Homo sapiens: one gene and its partners. The protein of the gene in region 7 interacts with the protein of the main gene of each other region in a pairwise test. Each region holds a gene or a part of one and is shown on either strand. Other genes may lie near its edges. The genes, in order: VASN, TAPBPL, DRD5, SPG7, AGXT, GNE and NOTCH2NLC.

Region 1 (4,271 bases), on a different chromosome or scaffold from region 7:
AGTCCTGGGGCTGGGGGACAGGCCCTACAGTCGGTGGGGCAGTGGAGGGCGGGCTGGGGGCCTCAGTGGCCGGCTCTGTGGGGCTAAGCCAGGTAGGAGCCAAGCTAGAAGACAAGGCTGTGGGCTCCCGCACCACGGGCCTCGTGGTGGGCACTGTGGCTGTGGTGGTGGTGGCTGGGCAGCCAAAGTCGGCGTAGTCAAGCTCCAGGAGCAGCCGGCCAGCGTTCTTGGGCGGGAAGTGGCAGCGCGTCTCCTCAGGGCTGGCCAGTGTGACGTGGCTCTCGCGCACCCAGGGGCCAAACCAGCTCAGGGGGCACACGCAGTTGAAGGGGTTGCGGGCAGCTGCCAGCAGCCGCAGGCGGGGGAAGAGGCCCGAGAGGTCGCCAGGCAGGGCCTGCAGGCTTAGGTTGCTCACATCCAGCTCCTGCAGGGCAGCCAGGCCGGCCAGGTCCTCGGGCCGCAGCTGGGCAATGCGGGTGTTGCCGGCCAGCCGCAGGCGCGTCAGGCCCCGGAGGCCTCGGATCACAGGTGGCACTCGCTCCAGCTGGTTGTCGGACACATCCAGGTCGTGGAGGTTGCGCAAGCGGCTGAAGAGCCCCTCGTCCAGCTGCTGCAGCCCCAGACCAGCCAGCCGCAGCGCCTCCACGTTGGCAGTGTCCAGGATGCCGGGCTCCAGGGCCAGGAGGCTGTTGTGGCTGAGGTCCAGCAGCAGCAGGCGGGGCAGGCGCAGCGGGGGCAGTGCCCGCAGCTCGTTGTCCTGCAGCTTGAGCTCCAGGAGGCGGTCGAGCGTGTCGAAGGCACCAGGCTGGATGTGGCGGATGCGGTTCTTGCCCAGGTAGAGGCGCTCGAGGCGCCGCAGGCCACGGAAGGTCTCATTGGTGATTTCATGCAGCCTGTTGGCTGTCAGGTCCAGGTTGCTGAGGTTGGCGAGTGGCTGGAAGACCCCGCTGGGCAGGCTGGCGATCTGGTTCTGTGACAGGTCCAGGAGCTGCAGGCCCGGCAGGCCGGCAAAGCTGCCTGCGTCGAGCATGGTGATGCCGTTCTCAAAGACGTACAGCCCCACCGTGTCGGGTGGCACGTCTCGGGGCACCGTGGTCCCCTGGCGGGCAGTGCAGAAGACTGTCTGTGGCTGGCTGCACTGGCAGCCGGATGGGCAGCCCTGCACCCCAGGCCCCAGGGCCAGTAGCAGGAGCAGCGGCAGCAGCAGAGGGACCCTGGAGCACATCTTCTGTCCCTGGGAGCAGAGAGGAGGCAGAGACAGAAGACTGTGAGTCAGGGGCCTAGAAGGCAGACACGCCAGGAAGAGCCAGAGGGAATTCACTGCTTCTGCCCCCAAATGCAAGAGAACCCAATGGTTATGAGTCAGGTCGCCAGTGCCCCGACCCAGGTTCTGTCCCAGCCCCGTCACTCCCTCACTGTGTGACCTTGTCAATGCACACAGAGGTCATCATGGGGCATGACATCCACTGAACGTGCAGTGACCATGCACTGCTTCCTCCTGAACCCCAGGCCCTCCTGCCTCTGCCTAGGTAGGTTCCCCCATCCCCTGCCTCAGAGATGGACCAGGAAGGAGAGAATGGTGGGACTTGGAGCGGCAGCTCCTCCCTACAGGGTCTGGAAGAGGGGGCAGGCAGGCAGCTGGGTGGGTGTGTAAGCAGAGAAGCTGGCTGCCTTGGCCGCCGGCTCCTGCTGCCACGCTCCGTGTCCCGCCCTCCTTGGAGGAGGGAATGCAGCGGGAAGACTTCACATGGAAACTATGGGATCCATGTTTTTCCACTTGGGCAGTCAGACCTGCTTAGGCTGGGGGCTGCGGGCCGCCAGGAAGTGGCCGGCGGGAAGGTTCCTGGAGGAGGGGCAGAGGCCACAGGCATTGGCAGGTGTCCCCTGTGAGGGAGGGAGGCGGGGAGCTGAGGCTGGTGACAGAGCTGGAGCTGGGGGGCCACAGGGCTCAGGTGGGGACACTGGCTACATGGCAGCCCCAGGGGCAGTGCCAGGCCTGGGAAAACTCTGCAGAGTCATTCATCTACTTTTTTTTTTTTTTTTTTGAGACGGAGTCTTGCTCTGTCACCCAAGCTGGAGTGCAGTGGCGAGATCTCGGCTCACTGCAACCTCTGCCTCCCAGGTTCAAGCAATTCTCCTGCCTCAGCCTCCCATGTAGCTGGGACTACAGGTGCCAGCCACCATGCATGGCTAATTTTTGTATTTTTTTTTTTTTTTTTTTTAGTAGAGACAGGGTTTCACCATGTTGGTCAGGTTGGTCTGGAACTCCTGACCTCAGGTGATCTGCCCGCCTCAGCCTCCAAAAGTGCTGGGATTACAGGCATGAGCCACCGTGCCCGGCTTCGTCTACTGTTTCTTGGGGTCTGCCCTGAGCTGGGCACCAAGAAAGATGAGCAGCAGCCATCCCCTTGGCAGTGATGGTGCAAGTCCTTCCCATGTGCCAGCGAAGTGGGAAGGACGAAGGAACACTAAGTGTTTACCGTCACCTCAGGTAGCCCCCCAGCAGCCACGTCAGGGCAGACAGAAGAAAGCAGGGCTCATGGAGGTGCAGGGACTCGCTGCCATTGCGGTGCCAGCAAGTCCGAGCTAGAGCCCAGGTGTGCAGCAGCCACCTGTGAAGGGTGCGTGCCCTCCAGATGGCCCTGGGGGCGGGGGCTCCCACCAGCCGCTCCAGGCTCCAGATCTTAGCTGCACTGCCCAAGTCAGGCAGGTCTGTGGCTGGCCCCCATCACCTAGACTCCTGGGGAGACCGCTGGGGCCGTCCCCAGGAAGAGCCCTCCCCACTTTGGCACCCCTAGAAGTCCCTGAGCCTCATACGGGGTGCCAGCCCATCCCCAGGAAGCATCCTGCCCAGTGGCGCCTGCAGCTCACACAAGAGCCCTTTGTGCTGGAGTCCGGGCTTCCCCTTCCCCCACACAGGCTGTGCAGGTAGTCCAGGGAACACGACCCCGACCCAGCCTGCACTCCGCCCCAGGCTGGGGGGACCCGTCCATAGGGCTCCCTCTCCCCCAGGTACGTGGGTTCCTGGAATGTGAGGAGGAGCAGGTGGTCCCAGGACAGATTAGACAAGTCACTGGTGAGGTGACCACTGGGGTCTGCGGGTAGCTCGAGGTGAAGGAAGAAGCCCTTGTCCCCGGGGTTGGGCCCACGCAGGCCCTGCCCACGTGTAGTATCGCACTGCCAGAGTCGTCTCCCCTAGGAGCTACCGACCCTGAGCCCCTAGCCAGTTAGCGACAACAAGCACCCTTCAGAGGCCAGCAGGCTAAGCCTCCCCAACCTAGCGGTGTCCCCCTTGCTGTCGTGTGCCCCCTCACCTCCCTAAGGTGAGACCCAGCCTGCCTTTGCCATAGGTGTCTCCAGGCCCACTTAGCTCAGGTCTGCTGAGTGAACAGCCCAGGAGGGCCTGGCACTGAGCACTGGAAGAAGTTAGCACCCCAAACCCCAGGCACGCGTCCCTGGCCCGGCCAGCCCACCCCAGGGGGGCTCGTGTCTGATGACCTAAGGCCCTGGGGCCACACCCCTAGCCTTCTCTTCCCCCATGGGACCCGCTCCACCCTCACTGACTCAGAGGACGGCGGGTGCGGCCTGGCCTCCAGATGTGGGCTGTGAGTGACCCCCACCCACCCCATGTCCATATGGGGGGTGAGGCCACCTCTGCCTGAATTAGCCCTCCCAGCAGGGCCAGACCAGGGTCAGGAAGGATGCAGCCAGGTTCCAGAGTGGGAGGGGATCCTCCACGTGGCCAGCCTGGCCAGCCTGGCCACCACTGTGGCCGCAGCTCCCCTTGGGCCTCGTTTAAGGTCACAGTTAAGAGCGCTCACTCCAGGCAGGCGGCCCTGTGCTCAGAGGTGTCCAAGCTGTGAGGCCGCAGACAGTGACTTTGCTCTCACACCTCGGTTTCTTCATCTGAGTATCTGGGACACTTCAGGGCTGCAGTGGGGGATGCATGTGGAGTCCTCAGCCCTGCAAGGCCAGGTGTGCAGGCCAGCTCTTAGGGGCACGTGCTGGGGGGTGCTCTTCACCCTGCACTGGGGAGGGGGACCAGCCATAGCTCTGGGCTCCGTAATCTGTTGGGTCTTTAATCAGCAAGGTTGTGAAGGGAGAGGGGATGCTGTGGGTCCATCTGGCCACAGGGTGGCTTTCCGGCTGACAGGTAGTGAGCTGTGGAATGTGCGTTCCTGTTAGCAGGACAGGGGTCTAGGTCAGGACTGTGGGCTGGGGTCCTGGGCTGACCATCCAGCAGGCGGCAGCCAGCCTGCTTCCCAGCCCCG
Region 2 (4,271 bases), on a different chromosome or scaffold from region 7:
TATTAGCCCTTCTACTTTCTTTCTCACCCACCCTGTACCCTCTTCTGTGTGTCTCTGCTATCCCCCTTTCCTCCCACCACCCATGTGCATGAGCAAATGTGCAACAAAACCCTGGGACTTTGCAGTCAAATGAAGCTGAGCTTCCCACATCCCGTTCTTCGGTTTGCCATGAGACGATGTGGGGTTTCCACTGTGTGTCTGTCATCACCTCTTTGTCTTTTTTTCCTAACCCTGATCTCATACTTGTATAGAGTAATAACAACAGTTGTACTTCCACCAAAGGCATGTGGCATATTTACCAATGTCATGTATTCTGAACAAAGGCAAAAAATACAAATTCCTACCATTAAACTGGCTTGGTTGTTGTTTGGGTTGGAGTAGCTGTGGGGGCTTGGGGAAGGGTGTCGTTTCTTTCTAGTAGTCTCATGTCGCTTTAGGTCAGCTGGGCTGGCTTACACGCGCTGTGCGGTCTTCATGGAGATGGGAGCTCTGTGTGTCAGCACAGGAAGTGGTCTCCCAGCGTTCAGCCTGAAGCAGCCCAAGTCCTGTAGGTGCTGGTAAGAGGAAGTGAAGACAGGAAGTTGCGTGGGCATCTCACACTGGCAAACAAGCACAGGTTCCCTCAGGCCTCTTCCATCTGCCTCCTGTGCTCCTTCCTAGGTCCTTGGCCTGCTTGTCCTGTCCCAGGGGATGTGCCCAGATAAGGCTGTCAGTGAACACCCCCTTACCCCCTTTTCCCCATCATCCTCACGTACAGTTTTGGTATGCTGAGTTCCACCGTATTGATTAGGCACATTTTAGAAACGAATAAAAAGGAGAAGTCTCTCCTTGCAGCTGAGGGAGTGAGGCATTTGCAGGTATCCTGAACCTCCCAGCAGTCACCCGAGGGAGCAGAACCCTAATTGCAGCTGAGGTGCAACTGAGATGGAGCCACGGGGGTGCCTCTGAGGGCCTTTGTTTCATACTTAAACACTTTGCAAGTTGGAGCCGCTAGGCTTGGTGACAGGGCTCAGTTGGGACCAGTGTGGAGAAAGACAGGAAAGTGGAAAAGCTTGGTCGCAGCAGACACAAGGGCCTTTTATTTTGACAGAGCTGAGTTTGGGAGGGGTAGCCCAGCCCCAACCCATGCCTCATTGTCCCTCACTTGTTCCTTCTCCATTTCCTCCAGCTTTGTTTTCCTACCGTCACACCACCAACCTGGCTCTTTGGTCTTATCCTCCATCTGGACATTCTGCCTTCTTCTTGTCCCCTCACTTCTTCCTGTTCTCTGCCTTGGTGCATGAGCCCAGGGTGCACAGTGAAGGAAGGCAGAGGCCTCTGCAGAGCCAGGCCCAGTGCCCCATGAGCTGGTGCCACCTTCATGTATTTTTAGCTCTGTGACTTGACTTAGAGTCCTTCTGGGAGCACGTGACTACTCTTTCTTTCTACTCTGAGGCAGGAGAGTGACAGACTTTAGTGAGGTAGCTAGGAGAAAACGAGGGAACACGACTGGTTTCATTTTCATTTAGGGCAAACTCAAAAGCAGGAGGCTGTGATGGGTGGGTGGCTGGAGCTTGGGGCATCTGGGCTTCCACCCTGGTCTGGGCGGGGGGGTGGTTAGAGTGGGTGAGGTGGGCCAGGGCCAGAGCCAAGGGCACCCAGGCTCTTACCTTGCCGTCTCTGAAGCCCCAGGAACATCAGTGCAAGAAGGAAGAGACTGCTGGCAAAGATGACTCCCAAGGCTGTTCTCCGCTCTGTAGGTGAGAGCAACGTGGGCGGGGATCATCGTGCGCAGGAATCATGAGCTGAGCCCTCACCTGCAGTGTCCACCCCAGGGAGGAGGAGCTAAGGATTGTGTGTGTGAGTCCCTGGTTGAGGAGCCTGGAACAAGGCACTCAGCAGCATTTGTTCTTATTCAAGGTTGCTGGATACTTGTGAGTTACTCCACACAGAATTCTCTACCTCTTCCCACCTAAGGACAAGGTTTTAAAAATTGCTTTGCAAGTGAGATTTAGGTGGGTTTATTTGTTAGCACTTAACTTGCCTGGACACAGTGGCTCATGCCTGTAATCCCAGAACTTTGGGAGGCTGAGGTAGGTGGATCACCTGAGGTCAGGAGTTCGAGACCAGCCTGGGCAACATGGTGAAACCCTGTCTGTACAAAAAATACAAAAAATTAACTGGGCATGTTGGTGTGCGCCTGTGGTCCCAGGTACTTGGGAGGCTGAGGTGGGAGAATCACTTGAGCCTGGGAGGCAGAGTTTGCAGTGAGCTGAGATCGTGCCACTGCACTCCAGCCTGGGCGACAGAGTGAGACCCTATCTCAAAACAAAACAAAATAAAACAAAGCAAAACAAAAAACCACCAGTTAACTGGGATTTTGTAAATAGTTGGGGAATGATGTGAGCTGAAGTGAAACCTCAGTTTTGGGGAAGTTCACAGTCTAATGAGCAACCAAATAATGCCCAGTGCTCCTGGATGTTTCCACTTCAAGTTGCGGGTTCTTTCCTGTCCCTTTCCTGCTTAAAACCTCTCGACAGGCAGGGTGCGGTGGCTCATATCTGTAATCCCAGCACTTTGGGAAGCCGAGGCGGACAGATCACCTGAGGTCAGGAGTTTGAGACCAGCCTGGCCATCATGGCGAAACCCCATCTCTACTAAAAACGCAAAATTAGCCAGGCGTGGTGGTGCGCGCCTGTAATCCCAGCTACTTGGGAGGCTGAGGCAAGAGGATGGCTTGAACCCAGGATATGGAGGTTGCAGTGAGCTGAGATCATACCACTGCACTCCAGCCTGGGGAACAGAGCAAGATTCTGTATCGAAAAAAAGTAAAATAAAATAAAATAAATAAATAAATAAATAAATAAATAAATAAATAAATAAAACCTTTCAACAGCATGCTATGGCTCTCAGGAAGTTCCAGCTTGAAGGCCCAGTGAGATCTACAGGGTTTAATTAAGCCCGTAAGGGGAATCCGGTTGCCTGTTTTTCACATTCTCTCTTTACCATTGATTGATAGGTGACCTTGGGCAAATTCATTGACATCTGCAAGTGCCAGTTTACTCACCTGTAAAATGGGAGTCATGATCCATGAAATCATACATTTAAGTGCTTTCTACACTGCTTGATTCATGTAAATGCTCAATAAATAGAATTACCTCCGAAGCTTCAGAGCCACTTTCCCTTTTTCCCATATACCCTAAGCTCTAGCTGTGCTGAATTACTTGCAATTCTCCAAATTCTCTTTAGGCTGTTTTATGATTTGGCTTTCATATATGCTATTGTTTCTATCTTGAGTGTTCCCTTCCCTCTAAGCTAGTTAACTTGGCTCAAATGCCATCTTCTCTGTCTACTTAGTCTTGTCTCTATTACTGGACTAAGCTCCTGGAGGGCATGATCAGGAATTATTCATCTGTGATCTCCAGCCTTAAGCACATTGCCTGACACCCTGGAGGCTGGAGTATAATGAAGTCTCAGGGGATGTGTGGTAGAAGCTGTGGCAGCTGCCGCCTTGGGAAAATAGTCAGGAGCAGAGGCAGGAGCATGAAGCCAGGGCTGCGAACAAAGTGGATGGGCAGCAGAACAAGGCCATAGATGAGCTGGGGCAGGAGAGCCATGAGCCCTAGTGTGGAGGTGGGGAAAAGGAGGACACTCCCAGTACCTGGTGGGACAACCTGGGTGCTGGCCCCAAGGGGCTCCTCCAGAGAGATGTGTGTGACCTGGCAGGTGTAAGTGGCACCTGCAGAGCCAGGTTCTGCGGTGAGAGAGGAGGAGATGCTGTAGGTGCCTGCCACGCTTTGCCTGAGGCTGGAGAAGGAGGCACCAGAGACTTGGGCTGGGGATCCACCCAGCTCCTCTCGGGTCCACGTCACCACCACATCCAGAGGGTAATAGCCAGCAATGTCGCAGATGAGGGTGGGCAGCAGAGCTTCGTTTGCCAAGCTCAGTCGTACTTTAGGGGAAGCTGGAGAAAGAATGAGGAATAAGATTACACATGGATCTAACTGGGGACAGCGGAGGAGCCTGAAGCCTTTTCTTCCTGCCAAGATGAGAGTAGATTGTGGAGGCTACAGTGTCCCTTGGTGGTGTACCAAGGCGGGGGTGTGTGAGGGGCCCACCTGGATGCAGGCCGTAAGGGGGCAGGGTTACATTTTCCAGAAAACAGATAGTAAAGCCAACTAAAGATTGGCTGGCTTCTTACTGTCATTCTAAGCCAGTTTTTTTTTTTTTTTTAAGATGGTGTCTTGCTCTGTCGCCCAAGCTGGAGTGCAGTGGCATGATCTTGGCTCACC
Region 3 (4,713 bases), on a different chromosome or scaffold from region 7:
GCACAGAAGACTGACAATAAAATTAGCCTTAAAGAGATCAAAATTGATTGAACTGTCCTTGATAAAACGGCTTCAAAGCAGGGACTTGCAAGAAATTGCATATTCACATTTCATTTGCTTCCATTAATAGTGCTCACATTTAGATCTGATGGTAATAATATGCTCTCAACTGGTGTGGGTCTGGAATAAAACACTCCCCTTGGCTGTGCACACTGCAGAGAGGAAAAACAAAATGATTGGAGTCAGCCGGGCTTTTCTATTGAGCACCTCGACCTACAGATTTTCCAATTTCAAGTTCATTCACATTTCATCTCTGGCTTCTACATTTTACTTAAAAAGCATTTCCCTATTTGCTATTGTCCACTAAGGAAAATGCCTATTTAAAAATAGAGTTTCTTTTTTAAAGCATCTTGATTCACACATTTCAAAGCTCTTCAGAAAACACGATTTCTCAAAAGCCATGTCATTCTAAAACATGCTACAGTTGTCAGATGGAGAAAGATTCAAGATATTATTCTACATGATCTTTTCAATGAACTGATCGCATCTGTCTAGGAATAAGGAGAGTTGTCTTATGTTACTTCAAAAAAGATTCCATATGAGAAAAAAAACATCTGGTCTTGAGAAGATCTAATGCCATGCCATTGAAGCCAGGTTTCAGCACAGACCCAACATGGGTATAAGTAATAAAAAGAAACCTGAGAAAACAGAAGCTCCTCAAGGTCCTTTGCCCTGGTGTATCTTTAAGGCCAAACTGTAAAGAGATTAAGCATGTACTTCCAGACCCAGCAAATATCTTCTTTGCATTTTAAGGATGCACTCATCGTTTCTTCAGAAGCAATCCTGAAACCCAATGTAGCAAAGCAAAGATAGTCACCCCATAATACAAATAATCTGTGTTTATTAGACACCAGAATAAATCAGGGATACTTCTTAAGCTATGGTAAAGAGGCCCCCACCAGCACAGAGAGAAGAAATGACATAAGCACAAAGCCACGGGAATCCAGACCCAGGAAAGCTGTGCTCCCACCACATCACTGCACACACACACAACCTGCTGTTTAAAAATCAATTCAAACACAAACAAGTGACTGAACAAGCCATTTGTTTAAAAAGGGAGGGGAGAGCATATTTTTTAAGGACCAAGTATCATTTTTTTTTTTAAGGACCCAGCACCATACTCTCTTCTCTCATAGGATCGTTGGTCCATCTCTGGTAGGCTGGGTACATTTGACTGAGTTTATTGCAACTGCTTCTGCCAATTCTTCGAACTACCAATCAATGGGGTGAGGTTTCTAAGCACACGAGCTACTACACAGAAACACATGATAAAGGGAGCAGCACTGGAAAGGCATGTATTTGCGTGTGTGTGCGTGCTTGTCAATGTCTGTGCGGTTATGCAGATCCATGAGGGGGTTTCTTAATGCAGTTTAATGGAATCCATTCGGGGTGAAAGGTGTTATTTTGTCTAAAGAAATCTCCCCCTCGCAGTCCAGCTCCCAGACAGACTCAGCAACAGGGTCACCATCTGGGGACGTCTGATAGATCTGGAACATGCGATCGAAAGGACCCTCCTCCTCGTCGTTGTCCACCTCCCGGTTGCCGGGGGTAACGGCGTTGGGCATCATGTGGATGTAGGCAGCTGCGATTTCCTTGTGGAAGACGATGTCTTGGTTGTAGGAGATGAGCTCATTGCTGATGTTCACCGTCTCCACCGGCGTGCGGGAGCAGAAGTGGCTGCACCCCAGCAGCTGGGCAAACACCTTCTGAAAGTCGGCGTTGAAGGCATAGATGACGGGGTTGAGTGAGGAGTTAGCCCAGCCGAACCAGACGAAGACGTCGAAGGTGGTCTCACTGACGCAGGGGAAGCCGGCCGGAGGGCCTTCGGGGTGTCCACTGCAGAAAGGGACCATGCAGTTAAGGATGAAGAAGGGCAGCCAGCAACACACGAAGACCCCCATGATCACCGACAGGGTCTTGAGAACCTTGGTCTCCTTCTTGATGGAAGCGCGCAGGCTGGTGTCGGGCGCGCAGGCTGCGCTGCTCCGGCAGCTCTGCGCGTGCTCTGCGGCCCTCTCCAGGGAGGAAATCCTGCGGATCTGCACCTGGGCGATGCGGTAGATGCGCGTGTAGGTCACGATCATGATGGCAACGGGGATGTAGAAGCTGATGAGCGAGGAAGAGATGGCGTAGGTTCGATTCAGGCTGGAGTCACAGTTCTCTGCATTCACGTCGGGCTCCCAAAAGTCCTCCTCCCAGGGCGTCCAGTTGGCCAGGTTGTTTGGCAGGTCCAGCCCGCCCCAAGAGGCCGCCTGGTCCCTGTGCCAGTTGAGCTGGACCGGAATGAAGGAGATGAGGATGGACAAGGTCCATGCCAGGCCGACCATGACCAAGGCCATGCGCTGAGTCATCTTGCGCTTGTAGCGGAAGGGCCTGGAGATGGCCCAGTAGCGGTCCACGCTGATGACGCACAGGTTCAGGATGGAGGCAGTGGAGCACATGATGTCGAAGGCCACCCAGACGTCGCAGAACGCTCCAAAGGGCCAGTAACCGGCCACCTCGGCGACTGCCTTCCAGGGCATGACCAGCAGCGCCACGAAAAGGTCTGACACGGCCAGAGACACGATGAAGACGTTGGTCATGTTGGCGCGCAGGTGGCGGCTCCGCACGATGGCTGCGCACACCAGCACGTTGCCCAGCAGGGTCCAGATGATGAGTAGGGTCAGCAGGCAGGCGGTGACCACCTGTGAGGGCCCCAGTGGCGGTGCCCCCGCCGAGCCCCCCACGGCGTTCCCCTGCGCCAGCTGCTGGTATAGAGCGAACTGCCCCGGGTACGCGGTGCCGTTGCTGCCTGGCGGCAGCATTTCGGGCTGGACTGCAGGGGCGGTCTGTGCGCGGTCCCAACTTCAGCCCTGCGACCCCCAGGCAGCCCCATCGGGCACCCCGAGGATGCGCCCCCTCAGCCAAGGGACCCTCGAGCCCCAGAGGGCGCTCACCATGAGCTGCGCCGGGCTGCGGAGCGCGCGGGGACTTCTCTTGCCTCCTGAAGCGCCTCTGGCTCCATGGCCGTGGTGCGCCCCTCCAGTCTCCGCGATGGGGACAGGAAGCGGCTGGTGCTCGCTGACAGCCAGGGCTGTTCTCGGGAGTCTGTAGCGCGCCGGACGGCAGCGGCAGCGGCTGTGTCTGGTTCGGAGCGAGAGAAGAGAGCAAGCCGCCACTGAGGGGCTGGGGCAGGCAGTCGCGGGCGCCAGGCTGGCACTGAGGCGCTGCCGCGGTCCCTGGCCGCTCCCAGGCCCCGCGTCCCGCCCCCCGAGCCTCCGCGCTCGACTCCCGCCCCACCTGTGCCTTGGCGCCCTCGCTCACCGCCCTCAGCGCGCCAGAGTGTAGGGGCGATCCCGCAGGTCCGAGGGGCGCCCCAGCGCCAGACCCTAGTCCCCGGGCCGGGGAAAATTCTCCCCGGGAAAACCGAAGGGTGCTTGGCGCATCCCTGGAGCCTTAGCCCTGGCCACGCTTGGGGAACAAGAGGTGGGGTAAGGATGAGGACGCGAGGGCTTCCGGAGGGGGAAAGAGCATTTGAAGGGTAAGCGGGGCAGCCTTGGATTACCCACAGACCCGAGTCCCAATCCGGACTTTATTCCTGGCTCTGCGACTTTAAGGGCCCTACATAACTTTACCCGGCCTTGGTTTCCTTCTCCACAGCGTGGGATAATGATTCCTACTCCTGGGACAGTGTCAGAACTCATGGAAGCCGTCTAGGATGAGGTGTCCAGTAGACAGTGTCTCCTAGGAACAGGCTCCCGCTTCCCCCAGCCCCTCTCTCAACACCCTGAGGCTGGGGCTTCAGCTGACCTCTTGGGAGATTGTCCTTTTCCCCACCACCGCCCCCAGTCCTTGAACGATTTTTCCTTTGGGGAATAATTCGGAATGAACTCAGAAGACAAGAGGAGGAAGAGAGCCCCCCACCCCCATAGAGTTGGAGGCCTCTTCTTTGCAGGGCACTTTTACAGCCTTTCTCTTTTTCAACCTTGAGAGGGATGGATAAATAGCTCAGTGTTTAACAGAAAAGGAACTGACGGGGCCCAAAACCCAAACTGAAAAAAAAGAATGATGGAAAACAATAAAGAGGGAAAACAGTGTTCCTGAGCTCTGAGTGCACCTCCCAGCTGACAAGTTGCATTTGTGAAGTGTTTCGGCCTCTACTGGCGTTAAGCTCAGCTGAAGGCAGCTGGGAGAGAAAGGGATGTGACAGCAGCCAGCTGCATAGCTCCGGCTGCGACCTGCTGGCCCAGACACCTGCAGCATGGTGAGGTCTAGAAACAGACTGGACTTTCTCCTCCCTTCCTAGTCTCCCCCTCCACCAAACGCACCTGTACCCTGGACCAACATCTGCAAGTGGCCCACCTTCTCAGACTTAAGCTGCTCAGCCTACACAGTCCCTTCCCCCAACCTCCTTCCCCCTCAGTGCTTTTTGCCGCTGGAGAGGGCAAGACCATCTGTCCAGGTGCCTAAACCTGAAACTGAAGGGCCATCCTCACCTCTGGTCTCTCCTCATCTTCTGGGAGCTGGACCACTCCTCTGGCCATGGACATCCCTGTCCAGAATTGTGCCTCCTCCATCCTGTTTGATGGTGGCACTTTCCTGGCCTCCAGTCTCTGCCCTGACCCTCTGTCTTCCCAGCAGGCAGTGATCTTTCCTGAATGTGACTATGTTCAT
Region 4 (4,271 bases), on a different chromosome or scaffold from region 7:
TAGAAAAATTAGCTAGGTGTGATGGCGGGCGCCTGCAGTCCCAGCTACTTGGGAGGCTGAGGCAAGAGAATCACTTGAACCTGAGAGACGGAGGTTACAGTAGGGCAAGATCATGCCACTGCACTCCAGGCTGGGCGACAGAGCAAGACTCCGTCTCAAAAAACAAACAAAAAAGAATGACGGGGGGGTGAGCTGAGACCCCGGCCTCTCCCTGGCTGGGCCCTGCTCCTGCCCCGTGTGGTCAAAGCAAGCCTCTCTCTGCACATCTGCCTCTTGGAGCTGCAGCTGCGGCTCTGGACACCCCAACTCAAAACGACACTCTTCAGGTCAAAGGGCTGTTGAAGGAGGTCGTGATTTCTTCTTTTATAAATGTTGCAATCATCGAAATAGCTCCTGCTGCTTTTAGGAACAAGTGCAACCCTCTGAGGAGTGTCTCCTCCTGCCCCATGGTTGGGGGGGTGCCACAGGGTCGGGGCAAGGGTCACAGAACAGCAGCTTTTGACTTTCTCCCTGGCAGGATGGGCAGAGGCCTCCTCTGAGTTACGGGCCTCCTGCTTACTTTCCCTCTCCCCTCAGACCTGGAGGCGCAGCTCCCATCCCCATCACTTTCTGGATCCTTATGGCTTCTACTCACCCCTTCAGAAGCTTTTTGCCTCAGGGACAAGGCTTTTTTTCTGTCAGTGACAGGGTCTCACTCTGTTGCCCAGGCTGGAGGGCAGTGGTGCGATCACGGCTCACTGTTGCTTCAACCTCCCAGGTTCAAGCAATCCTCCTGCTGCAGCCTCCTGAGTAGCTGAGACCAGAGGTGTGCTCCACCACCATGCCTGGCTAATACTCTTTATTCTTTTCTTTTAAGAGATGGGGTCTTGCTGTATTGCCCAGGCTGGTCTCAAACTCCTGGCCTCAAGCAACCCTCCTGCCTCAGCCCCCAAAGTGCTGGGATTACAGGCATGAGCCACAGTGCCCAGCCAGGGACAAATGTTTGCATTAAATCTCCCCTGTTCAGCTTACTGGTGAGGCTTCATTTCCTGTCTCAGATTTTCCACACATCTGTAAGTGTCCATTCTGTACAACTTGAATCAGCTCGTGGTCCTGAGCACTCAAGTACGTCATGTATTTTCTTTCAACTGGCTTGTGGTTCCCACTCAGTCCTTCCTGCTTTGCTACTATTATCAAAAGCTTTTCGATTTCCACATAAAAGTAAATGGTTACACGAAAATAAATTTCAGTAAGACACAGGCAGCGCCAGTCCTCTCGACCCGCAGGGCTGTCGGAGAGAAGCCAGGTGTGTTTTGCAGTGTCTGGCACAGCAGCTGCCCCACTCCTCTGCAGGAACCCACTGCTTTCCCAAGCTGAAGCCCTGGGGACCTGCAAGAGGCGTGTTCGTGCTAGGAATTCACTCGAATTGAGGGTGAGGAACTCGGTTCTCGCAGGGATAGCTCGCAAAGGAGGCTCGTGCTCCTCAAACACCTGGGGCAAGAACCACTTCCCTTTTCAAACGTTCAACCTGTCTCACACTGACAGTGCGGGTCTGAACTCCATTCCATGAGATGACTGATCACGTCTGGGTGTTGCCATCATAGCTATGGAAACCTCCAGCAGCTCCGATTCCCAGTTTGGTCCTCTCTCCTCACAGACGTCGCAGACCCCACACTGAGCAGCCACGGAACGGCAGTCAGAGGCGGTCAGCCCACCGGTCACCCGTCACCAAAACTCATCTCCCGTTCCTACTGACGGTCGGGACCATGAGTTTCACCAGAGGTGGTGCTGCAGATCCACACCTCTCCGCAGAGCCCCTGCTGCGCTGAAAGCACGGCTGTCCCTCCACAGCCACGGGCGGCAGCAGCCCTCCGGCCCACAGTCAGCGGCTGGAGCTCAGCCCCCATGAGGCTGGGGCTAGGCTGAGCCCACCACACCCAGGCTGGCAAGACATTTTTAGTTTTTATTATTTTTATTTTTGGGGGGCATTTTTTATTTTTATTTTTTCACTTTCTTTGGCAAGGCATTTTTTATTTCTGTTGGACGAGCGTCTACTCTTAGGTAAATCTGTGATATTTTAAACTAAGGAAAAGTACAAGGTATCATAAAGACATGAGTTACGCAGAACTGAAACGCAACGTGTGTTCCTTCCTGTGTGATGGTTCCATCCACCTCACCTCTCAATACCTGCCTGGGTATTTCTGGGGTTCAAGCCCTGCTAAGGAGGGCCTTCACCCAGGGCGCGCCCCCTGTACCTGCGAGGACGCGCTCCACGGCGTACTCGAAGTTGAGAGTGTGCACGGAAGTGTGTCCCTCCCGCGCCGCGTGCAGCGCAGCCTCATTGCAGATGTTGGCGATGTCAGCCCCTGTCAACACAAACAGCCACGGTGTGGGTGGGTGGGTTTCTGCTATCAGGGCTTAAGAGGAGGAAGGGGCCCTCAAGGGAGAACAAAGATGGCCGGGCATGGTGGCTCACCCCTGTAATCCCAGCACTTTGGGAGGCTGAGGTGGGCAGATCACCTGAGGTCAGGAGTTTGAGACCAGCCTGGCCAACAGGGTGAAACCCTATTGCTACTAAAAATACAAAAATTAGCCGGGCGTGGTGGTGAGCGCCTGTAATCCCAGCTACTCAGGAGGCTGAGGCAGGAAAATCGGTTGAACCCAGGAGGCGGAGGCTGCGGGGAGCCAAGATCACGCCACTGCACTCCAGTCTGGGCGACAGAGTAGGACTCTGTCTCAAAATAAATAAGTAAATAAATAAAAGGAAGAACAAAGAGGGAAAAGAGACCAAGAACCAAGAGTGCTGGTGAGAGCGTCTGGGAGAGAGGCACGGGGAGCTGGCGCCAGGAGCAGAGCTGGGGAGAGCGGCAGGCGCCGGCGCCAGGAGCAGGGGTGGGGAGAGCGGCAGGCACTTGCACCGTGTTCCACTGAGGCCATTCCACAGACGAGACACAGAACCGCCAGGCTCCATCCGCCCTGACGCCCGTCTCTCCTCCCAAGGGCAGTTAGTTCCACACCCCATCTTGTGGCTGATTCCACCTAACAGCTCATGAGCATTGATGGCAAAGAAATTAAAGGCTCTCTAGTAACCACAAAATTCTAGTGAAAGACCCTAACGAATAATCAAAGGGCAAATTCATCTCATAATAAAAGGGAGGTTTGTTGACATTAACTTTTAAAATGTGAACCACACAGCAGGAAAAGCATCTTGAGGTATGATTTCTATTTCTACAACTTGACAGAGACCGTGAGGGTCAGAGGGAGGCGGCTTTGCCGGGACTGCGTGGTCTGACTCTGGGTCTGACGGGAAACGCCGGCATGACTGGTCACTGTGTGGAAGCAACATAACTCCACTATCTCTGGAAACAACACAGACCGGGAACCACCGTCTGCTTTTCCACCCCGGGGCGGAGGACGGAGTGCGGGTGCCGTCTGGACCTCCTGCTGCCCCACATACACATCAGCTCCCTCCCAGGCTTGTACTGAGCAGAGGCCCCCAGAGAAGGAGCAGCGCCCACCCCACAGAGGAGGCCTCGATGCTGTTTGCGCAGGTGACACCACCTGCCCTCAGGACGTGACGCTGCCCAGGCTGCGGGTTGAGAACGTACCACTGAATCCTGGTGTCAGCTCTGCCAGACGCTGGGAGTAAAAGGTGCTGGACTGGGTCAGCTTCAGGCTCTTCAGGTGCTGCTCAAAAATCTCCCGCCTCTCCTGCCAGAACCAGGGGAGGAAAGACAGTCGGGCTCAAGCCTAGTTACTGCCACAGGTGCGGCATGTTTGTCTGTGGGGGGGGGGGGTCCCCAAGTAGCTGGGATTACAAGTGTGTGCCATCATGCCTGAGTTTTGTATTTTTAGTAGAGACGGGGTTTCGCAAAGTTGGCTAGGCTGGTCTCGAACTCCTGGCTTCAAGTGATCCACCTGCCTCGGCCTCCCAAAGTGCTGGGGTTACAGGCGTGAGCCACCATGCCTGGCCACAAGCAGCATTTTAAACACGAACAGAACACTGTTGGATGGCCGGGCCCGGTGGCTCACACCTGTAATCCTAGCACTTTGGGAGGCTGAAGTGGGCAGTCTGGCCAACACGGTGAAACCCCATCCCTACTAAAATACAAAAATTAGCCAGGCAAGACGGCGGGTGCCTGTAATCCCAGCTACTCGGGAGGCTGAGGCGGGACAATCACTTGAACCTGGGAGATGGTGGTTGCAGTGAGCCGAGATCGCGCCGCTGCACTCCAGCCTGGGGGATAGAGTGAGACTGTCTCAAAAAAAAAAAAAAGAGAACGCTCTTGGAA
Region 5 (4,271 bases), on a different chromosome or scaffold from region 7:
GGTCACAGCTTCTTCTTGGGGCAGTGCTGCAGGGCCGCCCTCAGGGCCTCCGTCACGCGGTCCACATTCTCGCGGGTGGCATTGCAGCCCAGCAGGCCGATCCGCAGCACCTGGGGGGCACAGGGCGGGCTGACGTCAGCCTCCCGCCTGGGACCTGCCTGACCCTGACCGACAGCTGGCCAGAGCCAGGATGGGCTCACCTGAGTGAGGACCACCCACCCAGCGTCCATGAGGGGAGTTGACAGCCCTGTGCAGGTCACAGAGGGGGCCCTTGAGCACCCAGGCCAGGGCAGGCTCTCCTCCCTCTGCACCCGCAGCCACACGGGAGGACAGGGTGGTGCAGTGAAGGTCCCTCCCCACTGCCACTCAGAGACACAGCCAGGCCCAGGCGTGGGGCTTCCGGCCTGGTTCCAGGGTCTGGTCAGAGGGAAGGAAGGATGTTCCGAGTGGAATCATAAAGGCTGCACCTGGTGACCTCAGTGGGCTGGGGTGGGAGCAGGGGCGACAGGATACGCTTTACTGGATACCCCTTGGAGAGTGGGCCCTTCTGGACGCTCCTGCAATCTGGGCTTTCGGATGACCCCGGCCTCCCCTGCACCTGGTGCACAGTCCTGCTCAAGGAGGGGTGGCGGGTTTGGTTTCTGCAAAAGGCCCTCGAGGCGCTCCCTCTCACCTTCCCCGTGGAGGGCCCAAGGCCACCCATGATCTCAATGTCGAAGTGGTCTATGACGTAGCTGACGATGTCTCTCCAGTCATAGCCAGCGGGTACAGCCACAGTGGTGACTGTGGGAAGCCGGAGCGCCTGCAGGAGGGGCCTGGCTCAGTGCGTGGGTGAGAGGCCCTGTACGGGCCTTTGTGACAGCTCTTGGCCTGCACCATCTGCCCCAGCTTCAGGTTCCAGAGGAGCCGGGGGAGAAAGGGCCGGGAGAGAGCAGGGACCCCACCCCTTAGGAGGCGGTGGATGGGCACCTTCCCACTGGGAGATCACAGGCCGTCCTGAGATCCCGCATCAGAGGCCGGGAGCTGTGACTTCGTGGCTCCTGCCGAGACTAATCCCTGGCACCGAGGCCACACCACCGGGCAGCCGCCCCCTCCTTCTCAGGAGCCAGTGTCCCTCTTGAGGGGGCTGGGCAAGAGCCCCTCATCCTTCCCCATGGGTGCAGGGCTGCCCAATGCCAGGGGCCTCCTTACCGGGTCCTTCACGAAGAGCTGCAGCCCCAGTGCCTGCAGGCGCCCATGCAGATACGCCGCGGCCTCGCGGTGCTGGCGCCAGCTGTTCTCCAGGCCCTGTGTGGGAGATGGCGCTGGTGGGCAGTGACATGGGTGGGGTGGGCAGGAAGCCCCGCCCTCTGTGGTGCGGGAGGAAGAACCTGACTCTGCAGGCCTTGGTGCAGGGGAGCCCCTGGAGCCCCCAGTTTGACTTTGCCTGGGGCAGGGCCTGGGACTACCCCAGGGCAGAAGGAAACATCTGGGTCTGGGAGAGACAGAGGAGGGTTCAGAGAGACAGAGGGGAGGTCTGCCTGTGGCCCCTGGGGGAGAAGAGTGGAGAGTGCCTTGCAGGGGGAGGGGACTGGGCAAGGAGGGGAAGGGCTGTTGGGCTACACAGGGCTGGAGTGGATCAGGGCCAGGGCTCAGGGTGCTGGCTCCCAGGCCCCCTCTCCTCTCAGGGCCAGCTCCCCCGACCTGGCATCCTCCGCAGCACTGCTCCTGCCTCAGCTCTGGACAGGTGAGGGGTGGTCTCTCCAGCCCTGGGCCCCTCAGTGCCATTACCTCTGGTCACGGGTCCTCCCGGCCTCCAGCCACCAGCTCTCATGGCCACCCCAGGTGGGTCCCCGGAGCAGCAGCTGCTCTCTACTCTGGCCCTGGCCCGTCTTCTCTGCGCATGTGCCCCTGCAATCTGCACTCTGCCAGGTCCCTGTGCCTCTGCCCTTGACTGTGCCCTGCTGTCTGGTCCTGTTCTCTTCCTTCTCTGCCCAGCTCACACCCCCCACCCACCTTTACGACCCTAGAGCCTTTCCCTGTGTGAGCGCCTGACCCCTCGCCTTCCCCCGCGGGTGCGGGTGGCATTTAGCTTACAGGGGCACCCTGGCACTAACCCAGCCCTAGGCAGTGGCTTTATGAGTGGACCCAGGAGGACAAACGTGGCAGGCACGGCCTTGCAACCTCATGGGAAGCTGGCTGCAGCCCGGGGATCCTTCCTGGACTCTGGACTGGTGGCTGGCAATGGGCCCTGTGGGACACAGGACCCAGATGAAAGTAGGTGGGACTTCCTGTCTCGTGGCCTGCAGAGCTGCTGGGCCTGAGGCCACTCTCAGCCGCCTGTGTCCTGAGAGTGTGGATGTTGCAGTGTCCTGAGAGTGTGGATGTTGCAGTGGCCAAATCAACCCCTGGTCACACCCAAGTGCTCATGCTCAGCTCTTGCCCTGCCATAGGAGCTGGACAAGCCTGCAGGAACTGCCAACCCTCACTTTACATCCACGCCCACCTATCTGTGGGCACATCTCTGGCCCCTTCGGCCTCCCCTTCTCCCAGCCCACCCACTCACTGGGCCTCACTTACTGCTTCACACAGCAATGGAAGGGTTGGGAGCATCCACACCTGCCCCATTGCTGCATCTGTCCCTGGGGCTGTATCCCCCTGGCCCTGCCCGCAGCCAGTGTACCCGGGGCCCTGTCCTCTCTCCCCCACCCCCACTGAGGGCCTCTCTCTGGCAGGCTCCCTTTTCTCTGTGCACCAGGGATGGTTCCTTCTCTGCAGGCCGCGCCCTCGACAATCCAGCCAGTGGCCCTGTCTCCTCCTGTGGAGTGCAGCCCATGCACCTGTTCCGCAATGAGGGCCAGGCTCTCTCTCAGGCTGTACAGGCTGATGACGGGGATTGTGTGATGGTACCTGGAAGACACGAGGGGGCTTGGTCCAGCACCATGGGCAGGGTTGGGGGCAGATGGGGCATTAGCTCTGTCTGCCCCAGCCCCAACAGCACAGGCTCTCTGACCACAGGCCGGTATCCTCCGCAGAGGAGTCCTGTCCGGGTTCAGAACTTTGGACCGGGAAGGCAGCTTCGTCTGCCAGGGAGAGCATGGCTTGTGTAGGGCCCAGCCAGGAGGCAGTGGGTGGCTGCAGGAGCAGAGACACGTGCCACCACCTCCCTGCGGAGCCCCTCAGTCCCAGCGTGCCTGCGAAGCCGGCACTGGCCCTCTGTGCCCACTGGGCTAGGGCACCATTCCTGGCGCCTTGTTCCTGTGTGTAACATAAGGGGCCTTGGGTTTATGGCCAAGGTCGTCTTTTCAGAAGGGGTAAGCTGAGGCCCAGGAGTGGGGAGATGTGGCAGGGCCAGGTCCAAAGTGCCCGAGGGTGTGCTGGGACCTCTGGGGGGACAGTGTTTGTGGAAGCGGCAGTGGGGGCCATGACCCTGCCCAGAGCCTCGGGCCAGTCGAGGAATGGGGGAACCCAGGGTGGGGCATTTGACTGCCTGATGCAGGCGGATTCTGGGGCTCTAGTTGGGGTTCTTGAGGCATGAAGGTGGGGGGCTTGGAGAATCCCTGAGTGCAGTGAGAGGCCAGCGCCCCACCTCTCAGCCATGCCCAGCGCCCTCCACCTTCCCATCCCTGCCAGGCCTCACATCCTGGGCTGGTCGTCACAGCCCCAGAAGTTGGCCAGCCACTTGATGTCCAGGTAGAAGGAGAAGGGCTTCGTCTTGCGGGAGTACATCTTCTTTCTGGGGAGAAAGAAGCAGGCTGAGCACCAGCCTCTCAGTTTGGGCTGAAGGCCAGGGCAGTCTCGCTGGCTGTCCTGTTTCACGGGAGTGAGACGGGGTGGGGCCCCCAGGAGGGCCCGCCCCAGCTGCATTTGTGCTCAGGGGCCAGAGTGGGACCGGGTGGGTCGTGGGTCCCTCAGCTGTCCAGTCCCGCTGGCCCTTGGGCCCAGCTGTGTGACCCTGCCATGGGGGCACCAAGGCCAGCTCCCTCCACTCTGTGTGCCCCTTTCTCTCCCCCAGCCCCTCCTACAGGGTCAGCCTTCATTTCTCACATCACCCAAAGGTGACTGCTTTCGGGCCCCAGGGGACACTGGCCAGGCTTGAAACTTTAAATGTGTCCGTCTCTACAACTCCAGATGGAGGGGCCAGCCCCGGCCTCTCCCCAGGCTCCTGACTCACACCCAGCCGCTTCCTTCACCCTCCCGTGTGGTCCAGCTGGCATCTCAGACCTCCCACGTCCAACACCGAATTCCTGACTTCTCCCCGAAGTCCTCTCTGTTCTGGGGAACGGCACCTC
Region 6 (4,271 bases), on a different chromosome or scaffold from region 7:
CCCAGGTTGGAGTGCAGTGGCACGATCTTGGCTCACTACAACCTCCACCTTGTGGGTTCAAGCAATTCTCCTGCCTCAGCCTCCTGAGTAGCTGGGACTACAGGCCTATGCCACTACGCCTAGCTAATCTTTGTATTTTTTAGTAGAGATGGGGTTTCACCATGTTGGCCAGGATGGTCTCTATCTCCTGACCTTGTGATCTGCCCGCCTCGGCCTCCCAAAGTGCTGGGATTACAGGCGCGAGCCACTGTGCCCAGCAACAGTTTCTTTATGAAAGAAGGATGGCAAAGTAGCAAAAACTAGAAGTCTTTTTAGACCAGGGAAAAGTAAAACGCAAGACAATGAGCCAGAGCAACTCATCCCTGGCAAGAATACATTTCATACAAAGTTTGCACCTGCTTCTCCACCTGGCACTTCTGATATTATTACCAGTCTTTGTATCTATCCATAATTCAGCAGCCTCAGCCCTTTCATAAATCCTTTCCATAAAGGCATTTTGTTTTCTGTTGTAAAGTCCTATATTTACTGTGATATGCCTTTCATTATTAGGAATTTAACATGCCTTTTTAACATTGCTAATTTTAAAATTAAGATTGTTATATATTAACACTCTGGTTACAAAGCTGCAATGTTATATATGGCCTACCCAACCCTATCTTCCTGTAAGCAGAGTGATAGCATGAGAAGTTCCATATTAAGGCCAGGTGCGGTAGCTCATGCCTATAATCCCAGCAGTTTGGAGGGCTGAGGAGGGCGGATCACCTGAGGTCAGGAGTTCGAGACGAACTTGGCGAACATGATGAAGCCCCATCTCTACTAAAAATACAAAAATTAGCCAGGTGTGGTGGTGTGCGCCTGTAGTCCCAGCTACTCAGGAGGCTGAGGCAGGAGTATTGCTTAAACCTGGGAGGCAGAGGTTGCAGTGAGTCGAGACTGCGCTAATGCACTCCAGCCTAGGTGACAGAACTCCAGCCTTGGCAACAGAGCAAGACTCTGTCTCAAAAAAAAGAAAAAAAAAAAGAAGTTGCATATCAAGAAGCAGGAACAGGTTTTATATAAAATGTATTACTGCCCAGTGGTGGATGGCTCTGCCTCATTGTCTTGAGTTTTCTTTTTCACTGGTTTAAAGACCAAAAAAAAAAAAAGCAATTTTAGCTGTTCTGTTGTCCTTCTTTCCATAAAGAACTGCTTAAATTGTCCCAAATAGGACTTTAAGCCCTACAAGTACAATTCAATTTTGCTACATTCTGCTTTCTAATGGTTATTTGCTGTTTTTTGTTTTGAGACGGAGTCTCGCTCTGTTGCCAGATTGGAGTGCAGTGGCGCGATCTCGGCTCACTGCAGCCTCCGCCTCCTGGGTTTCATGCAATTCTTCTGCCTCAGCCTCCCAAGTACCTGGGACTACAGGTGTGCGCCACCATGCTCAGCTAATTTTTGTATTTTTAGTAGAGATGGGGTTTCACCATGTTGGCCAGGATGGTCTCAATCTCTTGACCTCATGATCTGCCCGCCGTGGCCTCCCAAAGTGCTGGGATTACAGGTGTGAGCCACCGCATCTGGCCTGGGTTTTATGCTTGTTTTTTTTTTTTTTTTTTTTTTTGAGATGGAGTCTCGCTTCTTCACCCAGGCTGGAGTGTGGAGTGCAGTGGTGCAATCTCGGCTCACAGCAACCTCCCTGGGTTCAAGCAATTCTCCTGCCTCAGCCTCCTGAGTAGCTGGGAGTACAGGCATGTGCCAGCACACCTGGCTAATTTTTGTATTTTTACTAGAAATGGGGTTTCACCATGTTGGCCAGGCTGGTCTCCAACTCCTGACCTCAAGTGATCCACCTGCCTGGGCCTCCCAAAGTGCTAGGGTCACAGGCATGAGCCACTGGCACCTGGCCAAAACTAGTGTTTTGTTTTTTTGAGACAGGGTCTTATTCTGTCACCGAGGCTGGAGTGCAGTGGCACAATCATGGCTCACTTCAGTCTTGAACTCCCAGACTCAAGCAATCCTCCCACTTCAGCCTCCGGAGTAGCTGGGACTACAGGCACACACCATCACACCCGGCTGATTTTTGTATTTTTTGTAAAGACAGAGTTTCACCACGTTGCCCAGGCTGTTCTCAAACCCCTAGGCTCAAGTGATCTGCCCACTTTGGCCTCTCAAAGTACAGAGATTACAGGCATGTGCCACCACATCTGGCACATTATTATTTTCTATTCATTACAAGTTTTTCAGTGATACAAGTTTTCCAGAATACCTAGAGAGCTAATGGTATAATTAGAACAGAATCCAAGAGTGTTTCATCGGAAGCATACTAAAAGGAGAGACTGAAGAGACAGAAGGTTGTTCCACCAGCATTATCTAGACGATCCCTTGATAATTACAAATCTGTCCAAGCATAAGAAATATTTAGAATGGGCCAGGTGCGGTGGCTCATGCCTATAAACCCAGCAGTTTGGGAGGCCGAGGCAGGAGGATTGCTTGAGCCTAGGAATTCATGACTAGCCTGGGCAAAATAGTGAGACCCCATCTCTACAAAAAAATTTTAAAAATTAGCTGGGCATGGTGGTACATGCCTGTAGTCCCAGCTACTCAGGAGGCTGAGGTGGTAGGATCACTTGAGCCCAGGAGGACAAGACTGCACCACTGCACTCCAGACTGAACAACAGAAATATGTAGAATGGAGTACGTTATATAGCAGGAAAGCCCAATTCCTTTCCTGATGTAATGTAATCTAGATTAAAAATATACAAAATCTCTTTGCTTATTCAATTTTCTTTTTCTTTCTGTGTTTTTTTTTTGTTATTGTTTTTTGTTTTTTTTTGTTTTGTTTTGTTTGAGACAGGGTCTTACTCTGTCACCCAGGCTAGAGTGCAGCAGTGTAATCACAGATCACTGTAGCCTCAACTACTCAGGCTCAAGTGACCCTCCCATCCCAGCCTCCCAGGTAACTAGGACTACATGCACACAGCACCACGCCCAGCTAATTTTCTTATTTTTTGTAGAGACAGCGTCTTGCTATGTTGCCCAGGCTGGCCTTGTAACTCCTAGGCTCAAGCAATACTCCCACTTCAGCCTCCCAAAGTGCTGGGATTACAGGGTGAGCCACCATACCTGACCCAACCAAATCAATTTTCTGTTCATTAATTTTATAATTCAATAGATCTGCCTCTTAGAAATGAAAGGTCCTAAATAGATTATTAGTCCTAATTTGTCCCCTAGGTAGTACTCTTACTATAAATTAACCAACTGACATTCTGTTTGTAAACTTGGATTTTTTTACCTCTGATTAGCAAAAGATAATTTCTAGGAAGCTAGAGCACTGAACAATAAAAATTTTGGAACATAGGGCTTATTTACAAAGATATACTCTAAGGCTACAACTATGACTTTTGCTTTTTAATAATCATCATAATCCCTTATATTAATAAGTACTTATGGCTTACTGCTTCCAACATTCATAATCTGAGTATTCCAACAATTCTATAAGAAAAGCATTAAAAATAAAAATGAGCCAGGCGCGGTGGCTCATGCCTGTAATCTCAGCACTTTGGGAGGCCGAGGTGGGCGGATTATGAGGTCAGGAGTTTGAGACCAGCCTGACCAACATAGTGAAACCCCGTCTCTACTAAAAATACAAAAAAAAATTAGCCAGGTGTGGTGGTGTGCGCCTGTAACCCCAGCTACTCAGGAGGCTGAGGCAGGAGAATCGCTTGAACCCGGGAAGTGGAGGTTGCAGTGAGCCGAGACTGAGCCACTGCACTACAGGCTAGGCAACAGAGTAAGACTCCATCTCAAAAAAAAAAAAAAAATGACCATTTTGCCAATGTAGTAAAAAATTTCAGAAAATCAGGCCAGGCACGGTGGCTCACGCTTGTAATCCCAGCACTTTGGGAGGCTGAGGTGGGCGGATCACCTGAGGTCAGGAGTTCGAGACCAGCCTGGCCAACATGGAAAAACCCTGTCTTTACTAAAAATATGAAATTAGCCAGGCATAGTAATCCCAGCCACTCGGGAGGTTGAGGCAGGAGAATCGCTTGAACCTGGGAGGTGGAGGTTGCAGTGAGCCGAGATTGTGCCACTGCACTCCAACCTGGATGACAGAGCAAGACTCTGTCTCAAAAAACAAAAAAAAAATTCAGAAAATCAAACATAAAAACACCCATAATCCCACACCAGAAATAAATATAATAAATGACTTGGTGTACATACTTCCTAACCATTCCATTATTACAGTTTTTAGTAAAATGGCAGATTACAGCTGGGTGCAGTGGCTCACACCT
Region 7 (4,271 bases):
TCACCTACATCATGAGATTATTCTAAGAACTGAACAAAATCAAGTATGTAAAAAACCTTATAAATGTTAAAAAGTTTTGCAAGTGGGCTGGGCACAGTGGCTCACACCTGTAATTCCAGCACTTTGGGAGGCTGAGGTGTGAGGACCATCTGAGGTCAGGAGTTTGAGAATAGCCCGGCCAACATGGTGAAACCCTGGCTCTACTAAAAATACAAAAATTAGCCAGGGTGGTGGTGCACGCTTGTAATCCCAGCTACTCGGGAGGCTGAGGCATGAGAATTGCTTGAACCCGGGAGGCGGAGGTTGCAGTGAGCCGACGAGATTGTGCCACTACACTCCAGCCTGGGCAACAGAGTGAGATTCCATCTCAAAAAAAAAAGTTTTGCCAAGTGAAAACATCTTTTCTCTCTTCTTTGTGCTTATTGAGGAAAATACAATGCCCCATCCAAATCACAGCTTGATTTGAGAATAGTTTCTTGTGTTGGTTTTTTGAAGTGGAGGAGCAAAAAGTGCCAATGTAGCATAGCTAAAATTAACTCTGAGATATATTATTAAAAGCATTTGCAGCTTATTCAAGAAATGTGTTATGAATGTTAAAAACTGCAACACAATTCTCACTCACAGTGCAGCCCTCTGGGCATTATTAGATGACTCTTCATTCTCCCATATGGGAATTATGCACCTTCTAAATAATGGCAAATTTTTAAACGTGGGTGGGCTTTGCTCAGCTTTGCTCCTGAACTATTACACCACCCTAACACTATCATGTGGCATATGCTAAGAGAATGCAAAGTCATTTAAATGGTAGCATCATAAACATATAATGGAAATATAAGGTTCCCAGGAAAACAAAAATGAAGCAAAATGGAAGTTTCTAAAGCTAAACAGATGTATTTCTGAATTATTTGTTTCTACAGTTTAATTCACATTGTTGCTCCCTATCAAGTATGGAAAAATAAGTTTTAACCTAAGATATATTTAAGAAATCAGTAAAACCAGAGATTGACAAAGTACAGTTTGCAAGTCTAATTTGGACCACTGCCTGTTTTTGTTTGGCCTGTGAATAGTTTTTTACATTTTTAAATGATTAGAAAAAAAGAACAAAAGAAGGATATTTTCTGACATTTCAAAATTATATACAATTCAAATTTCAGTGTCCATAAATAGTCTTACCGGAACACAGCCATGCTCATTCATTTATAGATTGTCTATGGCTGATTTTCCACTACAACAACAGAGTCAAGTAGCTGTAATGAGACCACAAAGCCTGCAAAAATAATTACTCTCTGGCACTTTACAGAAAAAGTTTGCCAACTTCTGAGTAGAGAACATATGAAGGCTAATTCTATAAATACCATCCAATATGCTTATTAATAATGATCGGTTTCTGATAGGAAATCAACCTTATTAGTTTCCACAAAGAATATTAAACTTATAATCGTTCATTCACACAACAATTAGTAAATGCCTATTATGTGCCAGGCATTTTTCCAGTGCTAGAAAAATTCTTACACTCTTGGAGTTTACATTCTAATAGCGGAAGACGAAAACAAAATTACTAAGTAAAAGATGCACAATAGATGGAGTTAAGTGCTGTGAAAAAAAATTAAACAGGAAGGAATGGAGCTGGGGATGAGGGTGTGGGGTGAGCAAAGAGAAGTATCTCAGTTTAGAATAGGAAAATCAGAGAAGACCTTCACTGACAATACTTGAGTTGAGACCTAAATAAGGTGAGAGTAATCATGCAGGTATCTTAGGAAAACACATTCATGAGAAAGGGAACAGCAAATGCAAAGGCCATAACACAGAGAGCAGCCCTAGCGTGTTTGAGAAACAGCAAGAATATCTGGAGCAGCAGAAAATAGATGAGAGCTGTAACTGGGATGTGGATCAATTGGGGCCTTTAAGCCACTGTAAAGAAAGACTTAGGGTTTTCCTCTAAATGGGATAATACTTACATATGAGGTACAACAGACTTACTCTCCTAAAGCCCGTGTACAGAACCACATATTTGCTTTACGTGAAACTAGACCTACTGTATTAATAAAGTTTGATTTCTATTTAAAATGTTTTAGAGGGCTGGACATCAGCTTAGTTCTTTACTTTTACCTTAGAAGATATACAAGTCTCTTTTAACCCACACTTTCATGAGGTCCCATTTCCCTTTCCAAATTATTGTTTCACAGCTAACCTTCTATGACTGTAGCCTAATTTCAGATATTTCTCTTTCTTTTCCATCTACTTCTTACTTATCCCTCTGCAACAAAACTTTAATTCTAATTATTGCTTAGAAACTGTTTTCTAAAAACAATGACTTTCCTCTAGTCAAGTTCAGTGGTCTCATCTGAAACTTCATAAGGAAATTCTCTCTCCTATAGGGAGAATTGCTAACCACTCCATGTACCGTTTTAATCATTTTACCTTGGCTTCTATGACTCCCTCTGTCTAACTCAAAACCCAGTGAAGTCTTAGTCTGGATTGCTGATTTCTCCTTCTTCCCCATCTATTATGGCCACCCTAATGTTTAAGTCTGGACTGCACTGCTCTTTCTCTCAAATGCATTTGTTACTGTTGTTGTTCACTTGGTTTTAAACAACTTCCTTCCTGTAACTGACTCCAAAATACACTGTTCCAGTCCCATATGTTCAGTTTTCTAGAAGTCATCTCTCTATCCTAATATGTGCTGCCACTATTTGAAACTAAACATTTGTAAAAGGAGATCATCTTCCCAAGAAACTTTAATTATTCAATTTTTCTAAGGCTTCCACACACAATTTAAAGTAACTTCATCTCTTTAAGTTGTATATAATTTATTACCACATTCTGACAAGACTTGTTAACTGAATTCCTATAATACTTATCATTCGTGTTCACAGTTTCCTTTTTGATACAAATTCTGATCATCTTAAAAGCCTCAGGCCAGACATCATCTTGTTGCTGGCTTTTCCCCCATTTCCAGCCATCCTTGGAAAAACAGAACCTTCAGATTCAAGAAATTTAATTTCTATCCAATTAAGTAATCATTTCTAAAATATTTCTAAAAGATGATCACCAGCCTCTGCTTGAATACAAGCATGTAGCATGGTGCCGGATAAATCTTGAGAATTTAATAAATGCTTGGAGTTATTATTGTTCTGCTCTTAAGAGTACAGACTCTGGAACCAGACCACCTGGATTTCAATCCCAACTCCACCATTTACTCAATGTGTAATCTTGGGCAAGGTACTAAACTTCCCTGTTGTAAAAGAGATGTAATAACAGTGCCTACTTCATAGGATTTTTAAATAAGGGTAAAGCACTTAGAACACTATCCAGCACATAGTAAACACTATGCATTTGTTAAGTGAAATTACTGGCTGACTACTTCAACAAAAGAACAGTCTTCAATGTGGTGGATTCCACTGTGAGAAAGCTCTTTCTTAATTCTTCAAATTCTGCCTCCCTTCCTAGGTATATACCCGAGATAACTGAAAACATATGCCCACATAATAAAAATGTTCATAGCAGCATTATTCATAATAGCTAAAAAGTAGAAACAACCCAAATGCCTATAAGCTGATGAACAGATAAATAAAATGTGGTATATCCATAAATGAAATATGTGGCCATGAAAAGGAATGACATTCTGATACATGCTACAACATGGATGAACCTTGAAAACATGCTAAGTGAAAGAAGCCACACACAAAAGGCCACATATTATATAATTCCATTTATATGAAATGTCCAGAATATGCAAATCCGTAGAGATAAAAAGTAGATTAGTGTTGCTAGGAGCTGTAAAGAAAGGGAAATAGACAGTGACTACTAAGCAGTAGAGAATTTCTTTCAGGGTGATAAAAATGTTTTGAAATTAGATAATGGTGGTGGTCTCATAACTCTGGAAATACTAAAGTCTACTAAATTAAACACTTTAAAAGGGTAAATTTTATGATACATAAATTATGTCTTAATTTTGAAAAGAACAAACTTTGTCTCTCTACAATTTCCAGGTTATCTCTACCCTCTAGAACAAAAAAGAACAAGCCTTCTGCTTCTCTTACACGTAGCCCTTCAAGAATCTGAAGATAGTTATGTGGGCCTTTTGTTTTCTTTTTTCCAGGATTCAATGGTTTGGCGTATTCCTCAGTATAGGGTTATTTCCAGGCTTCTTCACCTTTTTAGTGGTGCTTCTATGCTTAATAGTAGTAATAATAATCAGAATGACCAAAATTTTCTGCCTCCCTTCCCAGGTATATACCCGAAGTAACTGAAAACATATTTTCTAAGTA

The links.
Region 1: the proteins of NOTCH2NLC (region 7) and VASN interact in binary tests that used the Homo sapiens proteins (3 or more experiments, as listed by UniProt).
Region 2: the proteins of NOTCH2NLC (region 7) and TAPBPL interact in binary tests that used the Homo sapiens proteins (3 or more experiments, as listed by UniProt).
Region 3: the proteins of NOTCH2NLC (region 7) and DRD5 interact in binary tests that used the Homo sapiens proteins (3 or more experiments, as listed by UniProt).
Region 4: the proteins of NOTCH2NLC (region 7) and SPG7 interact in binary tests that used the Homo sapiens proteins (3 or more experiments, as listed by UniProt).
Region 5: the proteins of NOTCH2NLC (region 7) and AGXT interact in binary tests that used the Homo sapiens proteins (3 or more experiments, as listed by UniProt).
Region 6: the proteins of NOTCH2NLC (region 7) and GNE interact in binary tests that used the Homo sapiens proteins (3 or more experiments, as listed by UniProt).

Annotation. Positions count from the first base shown.
Region 1 is NC_000016.10:4,377,832-4,382,102, reverse strand, and holds part of VASN (vasorin precursor), read right to left. Parts: intron 1,235-4,271; 5' UTR 1,226-1,234; coding exon 1-1,225. UniProt on the Homo sapiens protein: May act as an inhibitor of TGF-beta signaling.
Region 2 is NC_000012.12:6,458,317-6,462,587, reverse strand, and holds the end of TAPBPL (tapasin-related protein isoform 1 precursor), read right to left. Parts: intron 3,944-4,271; coding exon 3,641-3,943; intron 1,734-3,640; coding exon 1,650-1,733; intron 1,465-1,649; exon of another isoform or gene 1,198-1,464; intron 555-1,197; coding exon 439-554; 3' UTR 272-438; downstream 1-271. UniProt on the Homo sapiens protein: Component of the antigen processing and presentation pathway, which binds to MHC class I coupled with beta2-microglobulin/B2M. Association between TAPBPR and MHC class I occurs in the absence of a functional peptide-loading complex (PLC).
Region 3 is NC_000004.12:9,780,181-9,784,893, reverse strand, and holds DRD5 (D(1B) dopamine receptor), read right to left. Parts: upstream 3,261-4,713; 5' UTR 2,865-3,260; coding exon 1,431-2,864; 3' UTR 885-1,430; downstream 1-884. UniProt on the Homo sapiens protein: Dopamine receptor whose activity is mediated by G proteins which activate adenylyl cyclase.
Region 4 is NC_000016.10:89,546,077-89,550,347, reverse strand, and holds part of SPG7 (mitochondrial inner membrane m-AAA protease component paraplegin isoform 1 precursor), read right to left. Parts: exon of another isoform or gene 4,172-4,271; intron 3,691-4,171; coding exon 3,588-3,690; intron 2,346-3,587; coding exon 2,235-2,345; intron 1,654-2,234; coding exon of another isoform or gene 1,631-1,653; exon of another isoform or gene 1,566-1,630; intron 1-1,565. UniProt on the Homo sapiens protein: Catalytic component of the m-AAA protease, a protease that plays a key role in proteostasis of inner mitochondrial membrane proteins, and which is essential for axonal and neuron development.
Region 5 is NC_000002.12:240,874,553-240,878,823, reverse strand, and holds part of AGXT (alanine--glyoxylate aminotransferase), read right to left. Parts: intron 3,716-4,271; coding exon 3,620-3,715; intron 2,890-3,619; coding exon 2,820-2,889; intron 1,288-2,819; coding exon 1,192-1,287; intron 803-1,191; coding exon 674-802; intron 111-673; coding exon 3-110; 3' UTR 1-2. UniProt on the Homo sapiens protein: Peroxisomal aminotransferase that catalyzes the transamination of glyoxylate to glycine and contributes to the glyoxylate detoxification.
Region 6 is NC_000009.12:36,241,156-36,245,426, forward strand, and holds part of GNE (bifunctional UDP-N-acetylglucosamine 2-epimerase/N-acetylmannosamine kinase), read right to left. Parts: intron 1-4,271. UniProt on the Homo sapiens protein: Bifunctional enzyme that possesses both UDP-N-acetylglucosamine 2-epimerase and N-acetylmannosamine kinase activities, and serves as the initiator of the biosynthetic pathway leading to the production of N-acetylneuraminic acid (NeuAc), a critical precursor in the synthesis of sialic acids.
Region 7 is NC_000001.11:149,449,316-149,453,586, reverse strand, and holds part of NOTCH2NLC (notch homolog 2 N-terminal-like protein C), read right to left. Parts: intron 1-4,271. UniProt on the Homo sapiens protein: Human-specific protein that promotes neural progenitor proliferation and evolutionary expansion of the brain neocortex by regulating the Notch signaling pathway.